Regions from separate parts of the Homo sapiens genome. Here region 2 is linked to region 1. Evidence: fine-mapped expression QTL. Tissue or cell type: whole blood. Region 1 holds a variant in brackets; the other region holds the start of a gene. All regions are shown on one strand. Distances are between the middles of the regions.

Region 1 (8,101 bases):
ACATTCTCCCCCAAGTCCTGTATGGTCAAGGGGCCAGGGTGGGAGAGGATGGGCCACAGTCTTGGCCTAAGGTCTGGAGAGGAGGTGCACATCCCCTAGGGGTCAGGAAAGAAGGCTTCTTGGAGGAGGTGGTGTTACCAGGCAGCATCCCTTGTACCTGGGACAGCAGGTGAAGAAGCCTGGGTGGGAAGTCAGCAGCTGGGGCCTGCAGTGGCTCTGGGCACTGGGGTGGTGGCCTGCCATGGGCTTTAAACTCAGGACAAGTGGTCAGTCGTAGGAGGGACACAAGATCCCAGCTGATGGTTTTTTTTTTTTTTTTTTTTTTTTTTTCTGAGACAGAGTCTCGCTCTGTTGCCCATGCTGGAGTGCAGTGGCGCAGTCTCCACTCACTGCAAGCTCTGCCTCCCGGGTTCACGCCATTCTCCCACCTCAGCCTCCCGAGTAGCTGGGACTACAGGCGCCCGCCACCGTGCCCGGCTAATTTTTTGTATTTTTAGTAGAGATGGGGTTTCACCGTGTTAGCCAGGATGGTTTCGATCTCCTGACCTTGTCATCCACCCGCCTTGGCCTCCCAAAGTGCTGGGATTACAGGTGTAAGCCACCGCGCCCACCCCGCAGCTGATGGTTTTCAAACCGATTGGTTTGGGGCCAGGACAGGGTCTCTTCCCCCCTGTGCTGTGGGCCTTGGGGCTGGATCATTGTCTGGGGTGGGGCCGTCCTGGGCACTGCAGGGTGCTGAGCAGCATCCCCGGCCCCCACCCACTCCATGCCAGGAGCTCCCTGCCTAGTCGAGACAATCACAGACATCCCCAGACACCTTCCAGTGTCCCCTGGGGGCAGAACTGCCCAGGTGGGCAGTGTGGGTCTGGGTGATGGTTTCTCTGCTGCAACCTCTGGCCAGAGCCGGCAGTCCCGGTGGACAGGTGTGGAAGGGACTGACCCTGCCACCCCACGGATCTCCCCAGGCTTCTGAGTTGCTGGCGGTTTTCCTTCCAACTGCAGTCCCGCAGTCCTCTCAGCCATGGGCCACACCCCCGGGTCTCAGACCCCGTGTTTGTTTTCATGCCAGGAGGCAGCTCAGGGAAGGTCAGGAGATGGGGTGTTCCCAGTCATGCCCATGGCATCTCTGCCTCCTCGGGCCCCACCTGCCTCGCCCTGTGGCCTGAGTCCCTTCAGCTGTGTGGGCCTCCCTGAGTGCCCTGAGTGAGGTGGCAGAAGGGGTGAGAGGCCATGGTGTCTTTGGGGCTGGTGGTCCGGGTCTGGCCATCTGTCACCTCTCAGGCGTGCAGGCACTAATCCCTCCAAGCCTCAGTTGGCCACAGTGAGAAGGGGCCTGGTAACACTGTCCTGGATGCCAGGTTGTTGTGAAGGTCCCGGCTTAGCCTCTGGCAGGAAGGAGGTGCTCAGGAGGTGGGCACAGGCAGAGGGCTGGCTGTGGGGGGCTATTGGAAGAGGGAGGCCTGGGAGCCCCGTGGCGGTAGGAAGGACTGTGGGGACATTGGAAACCATCTGTCCTGTGCATCGGTGTGAAGGCGCGGAAGCGCTGAGGATGTGAAGGAAGGGGCTAACCAGCATCACGGTGTCCCCACAATCTGTCCTTGTTGCTCTGTTCCAACTTGGGAAGCTCAGCATCGGAGGGGTTCTGGGAAACAGGCTGTGACCTTCCACCTTGATCTTTTTAAATTATAAACTTGAGGCCAGCCGTGGTGGCTAATGCCTGTAATCCCAGCACTTGGGGAGGCTGAGGTGGGAGGATCACTTGAGGTCAGGAGTTTGAGACCAGCCCGGGCAACATGGTGAAACCCCATCTCTACTAAAAATTAAAACAAAATTAGCTGGGTGAGGTGACAGGTGCTACTCAGGAGACTGAGGTGGTAGAATCGCTTGAACCTGGGAGGTACAGGTTGCGGTGAGCTGAGATCGCGCCATTGTACTCCAGCCTGGGCGTCAGAGCAAGATTCTGTCTCAAAAAAAAAAAAAAAAAATTGAAAAAAACATTCAGAGACAGCATCTCACTCTGTCGCCCAGGCTGGAGTGCAGTGGTGCCATCATAGCTCATCGCAGCCTTGAACTCCTCGCGGGGCTAAAGAGATCCTCCTGCCTTAGCCTCCTGAGTAGCTGGGGCTACAGGCATACACCACCATGGCCAACATGATGAAACCCTGTCTCTACTAAAAATACAAAAATTAGCCAGGTGTGCTGGTGGGCGCCTGTAATCCCAGCTACTCAGGAGGCTGAGACACGAGAATCCCTTGAACCCGGGAGGTGGAGGTTGCAGTGAGCCAAGATCACGCCACTGCACTCCAGCCTGGGCGACAGAGCGAGACTCTATCTTAAAAAAAAACAACAAAAACAAAAGCCACAGGCTGCCTGGGGCAGGTGACTGTGCTGTGGTCACCAGGCCTCTCCCCCATGTGGTCACCGCCCTCGCCCAGCTGTGTGACGACATGCTGCAGACATGTGCCCCCTGCGTAGGCATCTGTGCACCTGTGTACGGCGTGTCACTCCTCCCTGGCGTGCAGCCAGCCCGGTGGCATCTTCCCTGTTTGTCTGCTTGGGAAGTGGAGACTCCAGGCCTCTCAGCTCTGTCTTCTCCTGGCTTTCTTCCCCAGGCACGACTTGGTTGATTGAGCTTGAAGTTAGGAATCTGAATCCACCAGACTTGGTTCCTTCCTCCTTTTCCCCTTTCTTCTCATTGACGTGTATGTTTATTTTTTATTTTTTTCGAGACAAGGTCTTGCTTTGTCGCTCAGGCTGGAGTGCAATGGCGTGATCATGGCTCACTGCAGCCTCAGCCTGCCTCCCTGGGTTCAGGTGATCCTCCCACTTCAGCCTCCGGAGTAGCCACGCCCGGCTAATTTTTTTGTTTTTGTTTTTTCTTTGAGACGCAGAGTCTTGCCCTGTCACCCAGGCTGGAGTGCAATGGCGTGATCTCAGCTCACTGCAACCTCCGCCTCCCGGGTTCAAGCCATTCTCTTGCCTTAGCCTCCCAGGTAGCTGGGATTACAGGCATGTGCCTGGCTAATTTTTGTATTTTTAGTAGAGACAGGGTTTCACCATGTTGGCCAGGCTGGTCTTGAACTCCTGACCTCAAGTGATCTGCCCCCCTCGGCCTCCCAGAGTGCTGGGATTACAGGCATGAGCCACGATGCTTGGCCTGATGTGTGTGTTTATTAAGCATCTACTGTATACACTGTGCTTGGTGTTGAGAGAGAACACAGCCTCAAAGCTCAGGGAGCATCTGCCCTGTTGTAGATAAGATAAGCACATTAATAATATATAACACGGCTCCACAGGTGGAAGGAGAGGTGCCGTCTTGAAGGCAGATGGGGTGAGGGGATGGGACTGCCTCTAGGGAGGTGTCAGGGAAGGCCCCATAAGGGAGGTGACTTGAGCTGAGCTGTGAGTGATGAGAGCCGGGGGACCGAGCTGTTAAGCTGCATGACCTGCCAGGGACAAAAGCCTGGAGGCCGGGTGAGCTTGGAATCTTTGAGGGCCCCTAGGGGGGCCAGGCTGGTGATGGGCAGCAGGTGGAAAGTGAGACTGAAGGTCAGAGGGGCCTCTGGACCTGGTGAGA[CTG/C]TCCCCACAGTCCTGGGAGAGGTGGCCAGGAGCAAACCTGATGGTGTGGATGGCACTTCTCACGCGCCTGCTGTGTCTTACAGGACTGCCTGGACAGATCCTTTCGGGCACAGGTGTTCAGCTGCCCTGCCTGCCGCTACGACCTGGGCCGCAGCTATGCCATGCAGGTGAACCAGCCTCTGCAGACCGTCCTCAACCAGCTCTTCCCCGGCTACGGCAATGGCCGGTGATCTCCAAGCACTTCTCGACAGGCGTTTTGCTGAAAACGTGTCGGAGGGCTCGTTCATCGGCACTGATTTTGTTCTTAGTGGGCTTAACTTAAACAGGTAGTGTTTCCTCCGTTCCCTAAAAAGGTTTGTCTTCCTTTTTTTTTTTATTTTTATTTTTCAAATCTATACATTTTCAGGAATTTATGTATTCTGGCTAAAAGTTGGACTTCTCAGTATTGTGTTTAGTTCTTTGAAAACATAAAAGCCTGCAATTTCTCGACAAAACAACACAAGATTTTTTAAAGATGGAATCAGAAACTACGTGGTGTGGAGGCTGTTGATGTTTCTGGTGTCAAGTTCTCAGAAGTTGCTGCCACCAACTCTTTAAGAAGGCGACAGGATCAGTCCTTCTCTCGGGTTCTGGCCCCCAAGGTCAGAGCAAGCATCTTCCTGACAGCATTTTGTCATCTAAAGTCCAGTGACATGGTTCCCCGTGGTGGCCCGTGGCAGCCCGTGGCATGGCGTGGCTCAGCTGTCTGTTGAAGTTGTTGCAAGGAAAAGAGGAAACATCTCGGGCCTAGTTCAAACCTTTGCCTCAAAGCCATCCCCCACCAGACTGCTTAGCGTCTGAGATCCGCGTGAAAAGTCCTCTGCCCACGAGAGCAGGGAGTTGGGGCCACGCAGAAATGGCCTCAAGGGGACTCTGCTCCACGTGGGGCCAGGCGTGTGACTGACGCTGTCCGACGAAGGCGGCCACGGACGGACGCCAGCACACGAAGTCACGTGCAAGTGCCTTTGATTCGTTCCTTCTTTCTAAAGACGACAGTCTTTGTTGTTAGCACTGAATTATTGAAAATGTCAACCAGATTCTAGAAACTGCGGTCATCCAGTTCTTCCTGACACCGGATGGGTGCTTGGGAACCGTTTGAGCCTTATAGATCATTTACATTCAATTTTTTTAACTCAGCAAGTGAGAACTTACAAGAGGGTTTTTTTAAAATTTTTTTTTCTCTTAATGAACACATTTTCTAAATGAATTTTTTTTGTAGTTACTGTATATGTACCAAGAAAGATATAACGTTAGGGTTTGGTTGTTTTTGTTTTTGTATTTTTTTTCTTTTGAAAGGGTTTGTTAATTTTTCTAATTTTACCAAAGTTTGCAGCCTATACCTCAATAAAACAGGGATATTTTAAATCACATACCTGCAGACAAACTGGAGCAATGTTATTTTTAAAGGGTTTTTTTCACCTCCTTATTCTTAGATTATTAATGTATTAGGGAAGAATGAGACAATTTTGTGTAGGCTTTTTCTAAAGTCCAGTACTTTGTCCAGATTTTAGATTCTCAGAATAAATGTTTTTCACAGATAGACTTGATTGTGTCTTCCTATTTGCAAACTGCCTTTGGAGCTTTCTGTCTACTTTTGTGCACTATTTTACAAAAATCCCAGGAGAAACATGAGGCAGGTGGCTTCAGCCCCACTTTACAGATGAGAAAACTGAGACCCAGGAGATGACGGTGACGGGCTGAGGTCCTAACCGCAGCCTGGGAGGTGCTGGGCTGTTCACTTTGCAGCGTCAAGTTGCAGGGGTCAGCAAACGACAGCCAATGGGACCCAAGTCAGGACACTGCCTGTCTGTAAATAAAGTTTTATTGACACCACCACACCCATTTCTTTATGTATATAGTGGCGTTTACGCTACCATCAGCAGAACTGAGTAGGTACAGCAGAAACCATCTGGACCACAAAGCTGAAAAATACTCACTGCCTGGCCAGCAAAGCTTGCTGGTCTCTTCTCTTGGGAGGATGACTTGAGTGTAGGAGTCTGAGACCAGCCTGTAGACCCCAACTCTACAAATAAATAAAAATATTAGCCAGGTGTGGTGGTGTGTTTCTGTAGTCCCAGCTACTCAGGAGGTTGAGGCAGGAGGCTGATTGCTTGAGCCCCAGAGCTAGAGGCTGCAGTGAACTTTGATTGCACCACGGTACTCCAGCCTGGGCAACAGAATGAGATGCTGTCTTTAAAAACGTTTTAAAAAAAAAAAATCGGGACGGTAAAGGGGCTGCGTCTTGCAGATTAATTAATTCACATCAACCTATTACTGGTGCCTTTTATTGATGGTTAAGTAACCATATGGGCAGATTTGTTTTGTTTTTGAGACAGTCTTGCCCTGTTGTCCAGGCTGGAGTGCAATGGTGTGATCACAGCTCATTGCAGCCTCCAACTCCTGGGCTCAAGTGATCCTCCCATCTCAGCCTCCCGAGTAGCTGGTACCACAGGCATGCAGCACCATAACTGGCAAATTTAATTTTTTTTTTTTTTTTTTTGGAGAGACGGGATCTCATTCTGTTGCCCAGGCTGGTCTCCAACTCCTGTGATTAGGCGATCCTCCCATCTCAGCCTCCCAAAGTGCTGGGATTACAGACGTGAGCCACCACGTGCAGCCTGGAGTTTCTTTTTGAGGTGGTAAAAATGTTCTAAAATTGATGGTTGCACATGTCTGTGGATATACTAAAATCCACAGAATTGTGCACTTTATTTTTTATTTTTATTTTTTCCTTTTTTTTTTTTTGAGACGGAGTCTTGCTCTGTTGCCCAGGCTGGAGTGCAGTGGCGTGATCTCGGCTCACTGCAAGCTCCGCCTCCCGGGTTCACGCCATTCTTCTGCCTCAGCCTCCCAAGTAGCTGGGACTACAGGTGCCCGCCACCACACCCGGCTAATTTTTTTGTATTTTTAGTAAAGACAGGGTTTCACCGTGTTAGCCGGGATGGTCTCGATCTCCTGACCTCGTGATCCGCCCCCCTCGGCCTCCCAAAGTGCTGGGATTACAGGCGTGAGCCACCGCGCCCGGCCAGAATTGTGCACTTTAAGTGGGTGAATTGTATGGTATGTGGATTATACCAGAAATATGTCAAGTGTGAACGTGAAGATAAGATTCCCAGTTCTTGAAGGAAACTCCATAAATGTCCCCAGTGGGCCCTTCCTAGAAAACACTAAAGTGGGTTCATTGTTGAGATTGCTGCCTTCTTTTTGATTTTTCTCTCCCTTTAAAGAACAATGTCATGTTTAAAAAAATGAGCAAAACCCAGAAAAGTATTTGTGGAACTGTTTTGCCACCGACTCTAATCTTGGGCATATTTCTTTCCTGGTTCACTTAAAAAAATTTCTTTGGCCGGGTGCGATGGCTCACACCTGTAATCGCAGCACTTTAGGAGGCTGAGGTGGGCGGATCACCTGAGGTCAGGAGTTTGAGACCAGCCTGTCCAACATGGTGAAACCCCATCTCTACTAAAAATACAAAAATAAGCTGGGCATGATGGTATGAACCTGCAATCCCAGCTACTTGGGAGGCTGAGACAGGAGAATCGCTTGAACCCAGGAGGTGGAGTTTGCAGTGAGCCGAGATCACACCACTGCACTCCAGCCTGGGCAACAGAGCGAGACTCTGTCTCAAAAAAAAAAAAAAAAAAAAAAAAGTCTTTGATTCAAGATCTCACTTTGTCACCCAGGCTGGAGTACAGTGGTGGTGTCATCATAGCTCACTGCAGCCTCAAACTCCCATGCGCAAGCAATCCTCCTGCCTCAGCCTCCTGAGTAGCTGGGACTACTACAGGTGCAAACCACCATGCCTGGCTACTTTTTTAAAGAGAGAGATATATATTTTAGTAGAGAGAAGTCTCACTTTGTTGCCCAGGCTGGTCTGGAACTCCTGGTCTCAAGCCATCTTCCTGTCTGGGTCTCCCAAAGTGCTGGGATTACAGATGTGAACTACCATGCCCACCCTAAAAATCTTTAACAGCTCTATGGAGATAACAGTTCAGGTAATATAAAGGTCACCCTTTTAAAGCATACAGTTCAGTGGTTTTATTTTACTGTGTTGTTTTTGAGACAGTCTCGCTCTGTGGCCCAGGCTGGAGTGCAGTGGCAAGATCTCTGCTTACTGCAACCTCCCCCTCCCGAGTTCAAGTGATTCTTCTGCCTCGGCCTCCCAAGTAGCTGGGATTACAGGCATGCACCACCATGCCCGCCTAATTTTCATATTTTTAGTAGAGACAGGGTTTCACCATGTTGGTCAGGCTGGTCTCGAACTCCCGACCTCAGGTGATCCACTCGCCTCGGCCTCCCAAAGTGTTGGGATTACTGGTGTGAGCCACCATGCCTGGCCAGCTTAGTGGTTTTAGTATAGTCAATACAGTTATGCAGCCATCACCACCATCTAATTACAGAACTTTAACATCCACACAAAAAGAAACCTCACACCCTTCCGCAGTCTTGCCCTGTGTCCCTCCCCCAGGCCCTGCAAGCCACG
Region 2 (8,101 bases), 94 kb before region 1:
TCCCAGCACTTTGGGAGGCCAAGGCGGGTGGATCACCTGAGGTCAGGAGTTCGAGACCAGCCTGACCAACATGGAGAAACCCCATCTCTACTAAAAATATAAAATTAGCCAGGCATGGTGGCGAATGCCTGTAATCCCAGCTATTCAGGAGGCTGAGGCAGGAGAGTTACTTGAACCCGGGAAGCGGAAGTTGCAGTGAGCCGAGATCGCGCCGCTGCACTCCAGCCTGGGCAACAGGAGCGAAACTCTGTCTCAAAAAAAAAAAAAAAAGAGATTTAAATGTAACTCACATGGGCCAGATGTGGTGGGTCACACCTCTAATCCCAGCACTTTGGGAGGCCGAGGCAGGAGGATCACCTGAGGTCAGGAGGTGGAGACCAGCCTGGCCAACATGGCAAAACCCCGTCTCTACTAAAAATACAAAAATTAGCCAGGCGTGGTGGTGCACGCCTCCATGTTTAGTTATCCCAGCTACTCAGGAGGCTGAGGCAGGAGAATCGCTTGAACCCAGGAGGTGGAGGTTGCAGTGACCTGGTATTGCACCACTGCACTCCAGCCTGGGTGACAGAGCGAGACTCCATCTCAAAAAAAAAAAAAAGAAAACAAAACAAAACAAACAAAAGACTAAATGTAACTGACATGACATGAACAAAGATCTAGTCAAGGGATAAAATGTGTTAAATAGGGCAAACTTTCTTCTCTTTCTTGAGACGGATTTCCGCTCTGTCGCCCAGGCTGCAGTGTAGTGGTGCGATCTTGGCTCACTGCAACCTCTGTCTCCTACGCTCAAGCAATTCTCCCACCTTGACCCTGCAAGTAGCTGGGACTACAGGCACGCACCACCACACCTGGCTAGTGTGTGTGTGTGTGTGTGTGTGTGTGTGTGTGTGTGTGTGTGTGTGTGTGTGGTTTTGTTTTTTTTTTTTGGACAGGGAGTCTTGCTCTGTCATCCAGGCTGGGGTGCAGTGGCGTGATTTCGGCTCACTGTAACCTCCGCCTTCTGGGTTCAAGCGATTCTCCTGCCTCAGCCTCCTGAGTAGCTGGGATTACAGGTGTGCACCACGTCTGGCTAATTTTTTGTATTTTTAGTAGAGATGGGGTTTCACTATGTTGGTCAGGCTGGTCTTGAACACCTGACCTCGTGATCCACCCGCCTCAGCCTCCCAAAGTGCTGGGATTACAGGATGAGTCACTGCACTCAGCCGTGGTTTGTTTTTTTTTTTGTTGTTGTTGTTGTTTTGTTTGTTTGTTTTTTAGTAGATGGGGTTTTGCCATGTTGCCCAGGTTGGTCTTGAACTCCTGAGCTCAAGGGATCTGCCCACCTTGGCCTCCCAAACTGCTAGGATTACAGCTGTGAGCCACCGCACCCAGCCAAAATTTAGGCTTTTTTTAAAAAGTGAGATAACATGCCTGCCTGCACCGCAGAGCTATGAAGTCCAGGTCAGGGGTGTGGGGAGGACGGGGTTCCCCAGGTGAGTCTATGTAAGCGGGATGAAGCCACAACTCCCTTTTCCTGGACTAGTGAAATGAAGCTGGGACACCATCATCAGAAGAGATTCTCAGGGGGAAGCCAGGAGTCCCAGCTCCACCTACGCTATGCTCCCTGGAGCAAGGCGCCTTCCCCTCCTCTGGCCTCGGTCATCTTACCTGTAATATGAGGCTAAAGGGTCGGGCATGGTGGCTCACACCTGTAATCCCAGCACGCTGGGAGGCTGAGGTGGGTGGATCATGAGGTCAGGAGTTCAAGAGCAGCCTGGCCAACATACTGAAACACTGTCTCTACTAAAAATACAAAAATTAGGTGCGGGTGTGGTGGCGGGCGCCTGTAGTCCCAGCTACTTGGGAGACTGAGGCAGGGGAATTGCTTCAACCTGGGAGGCGGAGGTTGCAGTAAGCCAAGACTGCGCCACTACACTCCAGCCTGGGTGACAGAGGAAGACTCCATCTCAAAGAAAAAAGAAAAAGCCAGGCATGGTAGCTCACGCCTGTAATCCCAGCACTTTGGGAGGCTGAGGCGGGCAGATCACCTAAGGTCGGGAGTTTGAGACCAGCCTGACCAACATGGTGAAACCCCATCTCTACTAAAAATACAAAAATTAGCCGTGTATTTTGGCTGACACCTGTAGTCCCAGCTACACAGGAGGCTGAGGCAGGAGAATTGCTTGAACCTGGGAGGTGGAGGTTGCAGTGAGTCGAGATCGCACCACTGCACTCCAGCCCGGGTGACAGAGGGAGACTCCGTTTCAAAAAAAAAAAAACATGGGGCTAAAGGTCATGCCTGTCTTATGGGCTGCTTTCCTGGGGAATTCTGGTGTGAGCCTAAGAACCTGTGGCCTTGAGTCTGAGCATCTTTTCCCAGAGGAATGAGGCCCCACCTCCTGGTGGCCTTGCTTCGATGTCCCCTAAGCAGAACCCAGCAAAATGATGATGTTTTGCAAGCACTAGATCTGGAGTCCAGATTGGGTTCTTTCCATTTTTTTTTTTTTGTTTTTTTTTTTGAGACGGAGTCTCGCCCTGTCGCCCACGCTGGAGTGCAGTGGCGCGATCTCAGCTCACTGCAAGCTCTGCCTCCCCGGTTCACGCCATTCTCCTGCCTCAGCCTCCCGAGTAGCTGGGACCACAGGCGCCCGCCACCACGCCTGGCTAATTGTTTGTATTTTTAGTAGAGATGGGATTTCACCATGTTAGCCAGGATCGTCTCGATCTCCTGACCTCATGATCCGCCCGCCTCGGCCTCCGAAAATGCTGGGATTACAGGCGTGAGCCACCATGCCCGGCCTTTTTTTTTTTTTGAGACAGAGTCTTGCTCTGTCGCCCAGGCTGGAATGCAGTGGCGTGATCTCAGTTCAGTGTAACCTCCATCTCCCAGGTTCAAGCGATTCTCCTGCCTCAGCCTCCAGAGTATCTGGGAATACAGGTGCCCGCCACCACGTCCGGCTAATTTTTATATTTTTAGTAGAGGTGGGGTTTCACCATGTTGGCCAGGCTGTTCTCCAACTCCTGACCTCAAATGATCCGCCCACCTCAGCCTCCCAAAGTGCTGGGATTATAGGCGTGAGTCATCCTGCCCAGCCCAGAATGGGTTCTAATCCCAGCTTGGCAACTCACTAGGAATAGGAGTTTGGGAAGGCAGCATCCCCTAGGAGTCTTGCTTGCCACATCTGTGAAATGTGTATAAGTGTTTCACAAGAGCCTGGAGTCCCTGTGGACTGGAGGAGACGCTGCTCCGGGGAAGCTCAGATCCGTGCCCGGCACATAGTAAGTGCTCCATAAACTATCTCACCGCACTCTGGCTTCCACGGACAAAGGGGTAAAGCCAGCCAGGAACCAGCTTCCTGCTAGGTACAAAAGTCCCCCAACTGGGAAGTCAGGTGAGAAGACATACCTACCTCCCAGTGATCATTGCCTAAATCTGTGCTTCTCCTCACCTCCTTTGGAGCCTGAGCTCACCTGGGCAGGGGGCCAGGTAGGCAGGCATCAAACTCCTGGCCTCGACCGATTCTCAAGTCCCACTTAGGACTCAGGCAGCTTCCTCCCGTCCCCTCTGTCCACCATGACTTCCTGGAACTGGTTTAAGCAAGGGTGGCCATGGCAGATGTCAACACCCTATGAAACCCCTGGGGGTCAGTGACCTGCCTTGCCGCTGGCTCCAGAAGGGGAGCTCCAGGCCAGACCCAGCCATCCAGCAACTTCAGAGCATGCTAAGACTGGACTTCCAAAATTCCAAGGGCCCCAGGTCCCACTGCCAGGCCTAGCCGGGACAAGAACCCCAAAGCAGTTAACGGATAGGCCTTCCTACTTTTAAGCCACCTCGTCGCCACGCCCACCCGAGGGAAGTGGGCAGGCTTTGCCCAAGACCTCCCCAGAATCAGTTGGGGGCGCCAGGAGCTGGGGCAACCCCCACCCCCACCCGTGGCAAAACCATCTGTAGGGGAGGGGGCTTTGCGGTGGCGGGGGGTGTCTCTGAAAACCCCAGAAGGGAGGGCGGAGATTCTGCCCGCAGGAGGAAACTTGCCTGCAAATGGCGTTTCCAAAAGCAAACTGTTCAAAATTTAGAGAAAACCTGGTGGGCGGGGGGCGGTATTTAGCCCACCCCCTTCAATATCACCCCTTCTACGGGGCTCTTTCGCCCCTCAAAAGTCCCAGGAAGTGAGAAGAGGGTTTCAAAGTCTGAGCTTCGTTGCAGAAGTTGGATTTTTCTGGGGGGAGGGGTGACCAGCCTGGGCTGAAGACCCCTCCCCAGGCCGCAGAGTCCAGCAAATCCCACCCCGAGAAAGGCCCTCCCCGACCCCTCCGGCCCCTGGGGTGCCCCAGGACTCCATGGACACCGCCCCCCAGCTCAACTGAGACGCCCCCGCCACTCACCGCGGTCAACCGGACGTCCCAGGAACAGCTGCCGCGACTTCAAAACCAGCTTGGAAACCGTCCGGGCCGAGGCGGGGGTGGCTTTTACTGCGTGGTAGGTTGGGGGCGCACTGGAGTGACGGGCGAGGGGACCAATCAGGTTGAGGGATTGCCCGCGCCAGGCCCGCCCCTCTCCTCCCTGCCCCGCCTCCACTAGGCCCCGCCCCTCGCCAAGTCATGAAGTCCGGGAAGGACTCCACGCCCTGCCCCTGAAGGGGAGGGAGCACTCTTGGACCACGCCTGTCCCAGCCACGGGACCCCCGCTCCGCAGCTGGGGACCCTGTGAAGTTGGCCCTGGGAGGTGAGTGCGATCGGGGGCGCCGCACAGGTGCTGGGATTCCCCAGGTCGCCCATTTCCCCTATGGCCAAACTGAGGCTGCGAGAACCCTGGGAGAGTTGCAGGGTGACCCTCGCCAGCGCGTCAGGGGCCACGCCCTCCACCATGGGCTCCGACTCAGCTATATGTACACACACACACACACACACACACACACACTTTTTTTTTTTTTTTGAGACACAGTCTCGCTCTGTCGCTAAGGCTGGAGTGCAGTGACGCGACCTTGGCTCACTGCAGCCTCCACCTCCTGGATTCAAGCGATTCTCCTGCCTCAGCCTCCTGAGTAGCTGGGATTACAGACACGTGCCACCACGCCCGGCTAATTTTTTGTATTTTTAGCAGAGACGGGGTTTCACCATGTTGGTCTTGAACTCCTGACCTCAAGTGATCTGCCCGCTTGGGCCTCCCAAATTGCTGGGATCACAGGTATGAGCCACCGCACCCGGCCCAACCCAGCTATATGAGTGACTTGAACCACCACGGGAACTTGTCCAGCCTCCGGCCTGATCTGCCCAACATCAGACCACTTCATCCTCCCAGCACTGTATTGTCTTTTTAATCATCCCTATTTTGCAGAGAAGGAAACTGAGGCCTGGAGAGGGTCAGCCAGGGGCAATGGAGGGGTCAGGCTCCAGGCTCTGTGACTGCTGGATCAACCTTTTCCTGAAGCTGCCCCCACTTGGATTTTACCCCGCCCCTCTCCACCTCCCAAATTATTTATCCTCTTGGTCTATAAACCAAGGTCTCAATCTCAGATGGTCCAGGGAGGAGGTGAATATTTCTGCTGAGGAGGTGGCAGTGATGCCCTGCTTAGAGGGGCAGGGGAGAGCAGTGCCCTATGGGAGACCCACCTGGAGAGTCACAGATCCACAGGAAGTTCAAGCTGTAGACATGTCCTGCCTGTTAGGGAACAATTGGACCAAATGAAACCCAACTGGGGCTTTGTCCAGCCCAGGGGCCACCAGTTTGCCACCTCTGCCAAATTATTTGAATAGAATGAAGCTTCTGGTAGCTTTAGAAAGAACATGGGAAAAATTGGGTGTCTGTGACTGCATTTTTTTGGGGGGGTGAGTGGGGACAGGGTCTATGCTAGCACTGTCCAATAGAACTTTCTGCAATTCTAGAATTGTGTGCCATCCAACATTGTAGCCAAAAGCACCACGTGGCTAATGCACAGTGAGAAGCTGAATGTTTAAATTTTTTTTTTTTTTTTGAGGCAGAGTCTCGCTCTGTCTCCCAGGCTGGAGTGCAATGGCGCGATCTCGACTCACTACAACCTCCACCTCCCGGGTTCAAGCGGTTCTCCTGCCTCAGCCTCCCAAGTAGCTGGGATTACAGGCGCGCGCCACCACACCCAGCTAATTTTTGTATTTTTAGTAGAGACGAGGACTAACCATATTGGCCAGGCTGGTCTCGAACTCCTGGCCTCAAGTGATCCACCTGCCTCGGCCTCCTAAAGTGCTGGGATTACAGGTGTGAGCTACCGCGCTTGGCCTGAATGTTTAAATTTAAGTAACTTCAGGCAGCTAGTGAGATTCTCAAGTGAATCTGAGACCCCATTCCATGACATTTGTAACAGGCTTTTTCCTTCTCATTCACTCATTCAACCATATTTATTGAGTCCTTGCGCTGGGGACAGCGGTGAGCTAAACAGATAAGAATTCCAGCCCTGGTGACACACACTACCCAGTGGGAGAGACGAACAAGGAACAACATAAGTGAGAGAACTTTACAATGTGTCACGTGGTAGGACAGCAAAGGACGAGATGAATGTGGGGGATGCGGGGATTTTGTTCTTGTTTTTTGTCAAAGAGTCTCACTCTGTCACCCAGGCTGGAGTGCAGTGGCACGATCTCGGCTCACTGCAACCTCCGCCTCCCAGGTTCAAGAAATTCTTGTTCCTCGACCTCCCAAGTGGCTGGGATTACAGGCCTGTGCCACCATGCCTGGCCAATTTTTGTATTTTTTTTTTTTTTAGTAGAGACGGGGCTTCACCATGTTGGCCAGGCTGGTCTCGAACTCCTGACCTCATGTGATCCACCAGCCCTGGCCTCTCAAGGTGCTGGGTTATAGGCATGAGCCACCACACCCGGTGGGGCCGCAGTTTTTAGTAGGGAGGTCAGAGGAGGCCTTTCTGAGTGACATCCAAGAAGAGAAGAGAGAGAGGCCAGGAGGGAACCATGTCCAGTTAGGGGGAACAGCATTCCAGGCAGCAGGCACAGTCCGTGCAAAGGCCCTGAGGCAGGACCACACCCTGCCTGTTAGAACAGTGAGGAGGCCCCAGTGGCTGGAGTACAGTGAGTGAGAGAGAGGGAGGAGGGGAGGGCTGGGATGGCTCAGAGAGGGGAAGTGACTCATCCAAGATTCAAGGTCAGTGGGAGATTTGCCTGTTAACCCTTAACTTCTTAGTGGCCTTGAGTAACAAAATAGCTCTGGTCTAGGGGATGAGCCCTGGTGATTTTGCCCCACACCGTTTTTTGTTGTTTTTTTTTTTTGAGACAGAGTCATCTCCCAGGCTTTTGGTTCTTCTTGATGGCAACATCTGCCCAGGAGTCCCCGCCTGGCCTCCCACAGCCCTAGGGTGAGAGGTAAGAAATAGCTACTGTTGGCTGGGCGCAGTGGCTCACGCCTATAATCCCAGCACTTTGGGAGGCCGAGGTGGGCGGATCACCTGAGGTCGGGAGTTTGAGACCAGCCTGACCAACATGGAGAAACCCCGTCCCTACTAAAAATACAAAATTAGCCAGGTGCGGTGGCGCATGCCTGTAATCCCAGCTAGTCAGGAGGCTGAGGCAGGAGAATCACTTGAACCTGGGAGGCAGATGTTGCAGTGAGCCAGATTGTGCCATTGCACTCCAGCCTGGGCAACAAGAGTGAAACTCTGTTTCAAAAAAAAAAAAAAAGAAAAGAAAAGAAAAAAAGAAATAGCTACTGTTGGCCGGTGGCTCACACCGGTAATCCCAGCACTTTGGGAAGCCAAGGCGGACAGATCACTTGAGCTCAGGAGTTCAAGACCAGCCTGGCCAATATGGCAAAATCCTGTCTCTACCAAAAATACAAAATTAACCGGGTATGGTGACGCATGCCTGTAATCCCAGCTTCTCCACAGGCTGAGGTGGAAGGATCGCTTGAGACTGGAGGGGTGGAGGTTGCAGTGAGCCAAGATTGCACCACTGCACTGCAGCCTGGGTAGCAGAGCAAGACCCTGTCTCAAAACCAAAAATGAGATAGCTGCTGTTTTCTGGGCTATTTCATTACATTATTCAGCAGCCTGATTCCCATTTTCTTTTATTATTTATTTATTTATTTATTTTCGAGATGGAGTTCTGCTCTGTCGCCCAGGCTAGAGTGTAGCCGTAC

Evidence for each region. PIP is the estimated chance that this variant, and not a neighbour inherited with it, causes the effect.
Region 2: it holds the start of PLIN3, and the variant in region 1 is fine-mapped to the expression of PLIN3 in whole blood (INTERVAL, PIP 0.99).

What each region holds. Positions count from the first base shown.
Region 1 is chr19:4,956,995-4,965,095 of GRCh38, forward strand. It overlaps UHRF1 (ubiquitin like with PHD and ring finger domains 1), which reads left to right. Exons shown (of 17, transcript NM_001048201.3): 17 at 3,663-5,160. The coding sequence ends at 3,809. Among named protein-coding and RNA genes, the nearest start is that of KDM4B, 8.1 kb to the right of the region's middle. The variant CTG/C (reference allele first, on the strand shown) is at 3,578.
Region 2 is chr19:4,863,244-4,871,344 of GRCh38, forward strand. It overlaps PLIN3 (perilipin 3), which reads right to left and starts at 4,424. Exons shown (of 8, transcript NM_005817.5): 1 at 4,366-4,424. RefSeq lists enhancers at 3,392-3,741, 3,684-4,184, silencers at 4,402-4,581, 7,005-7,169, 7,046-7,125 and a cis regulatory region at 6,838-7,324.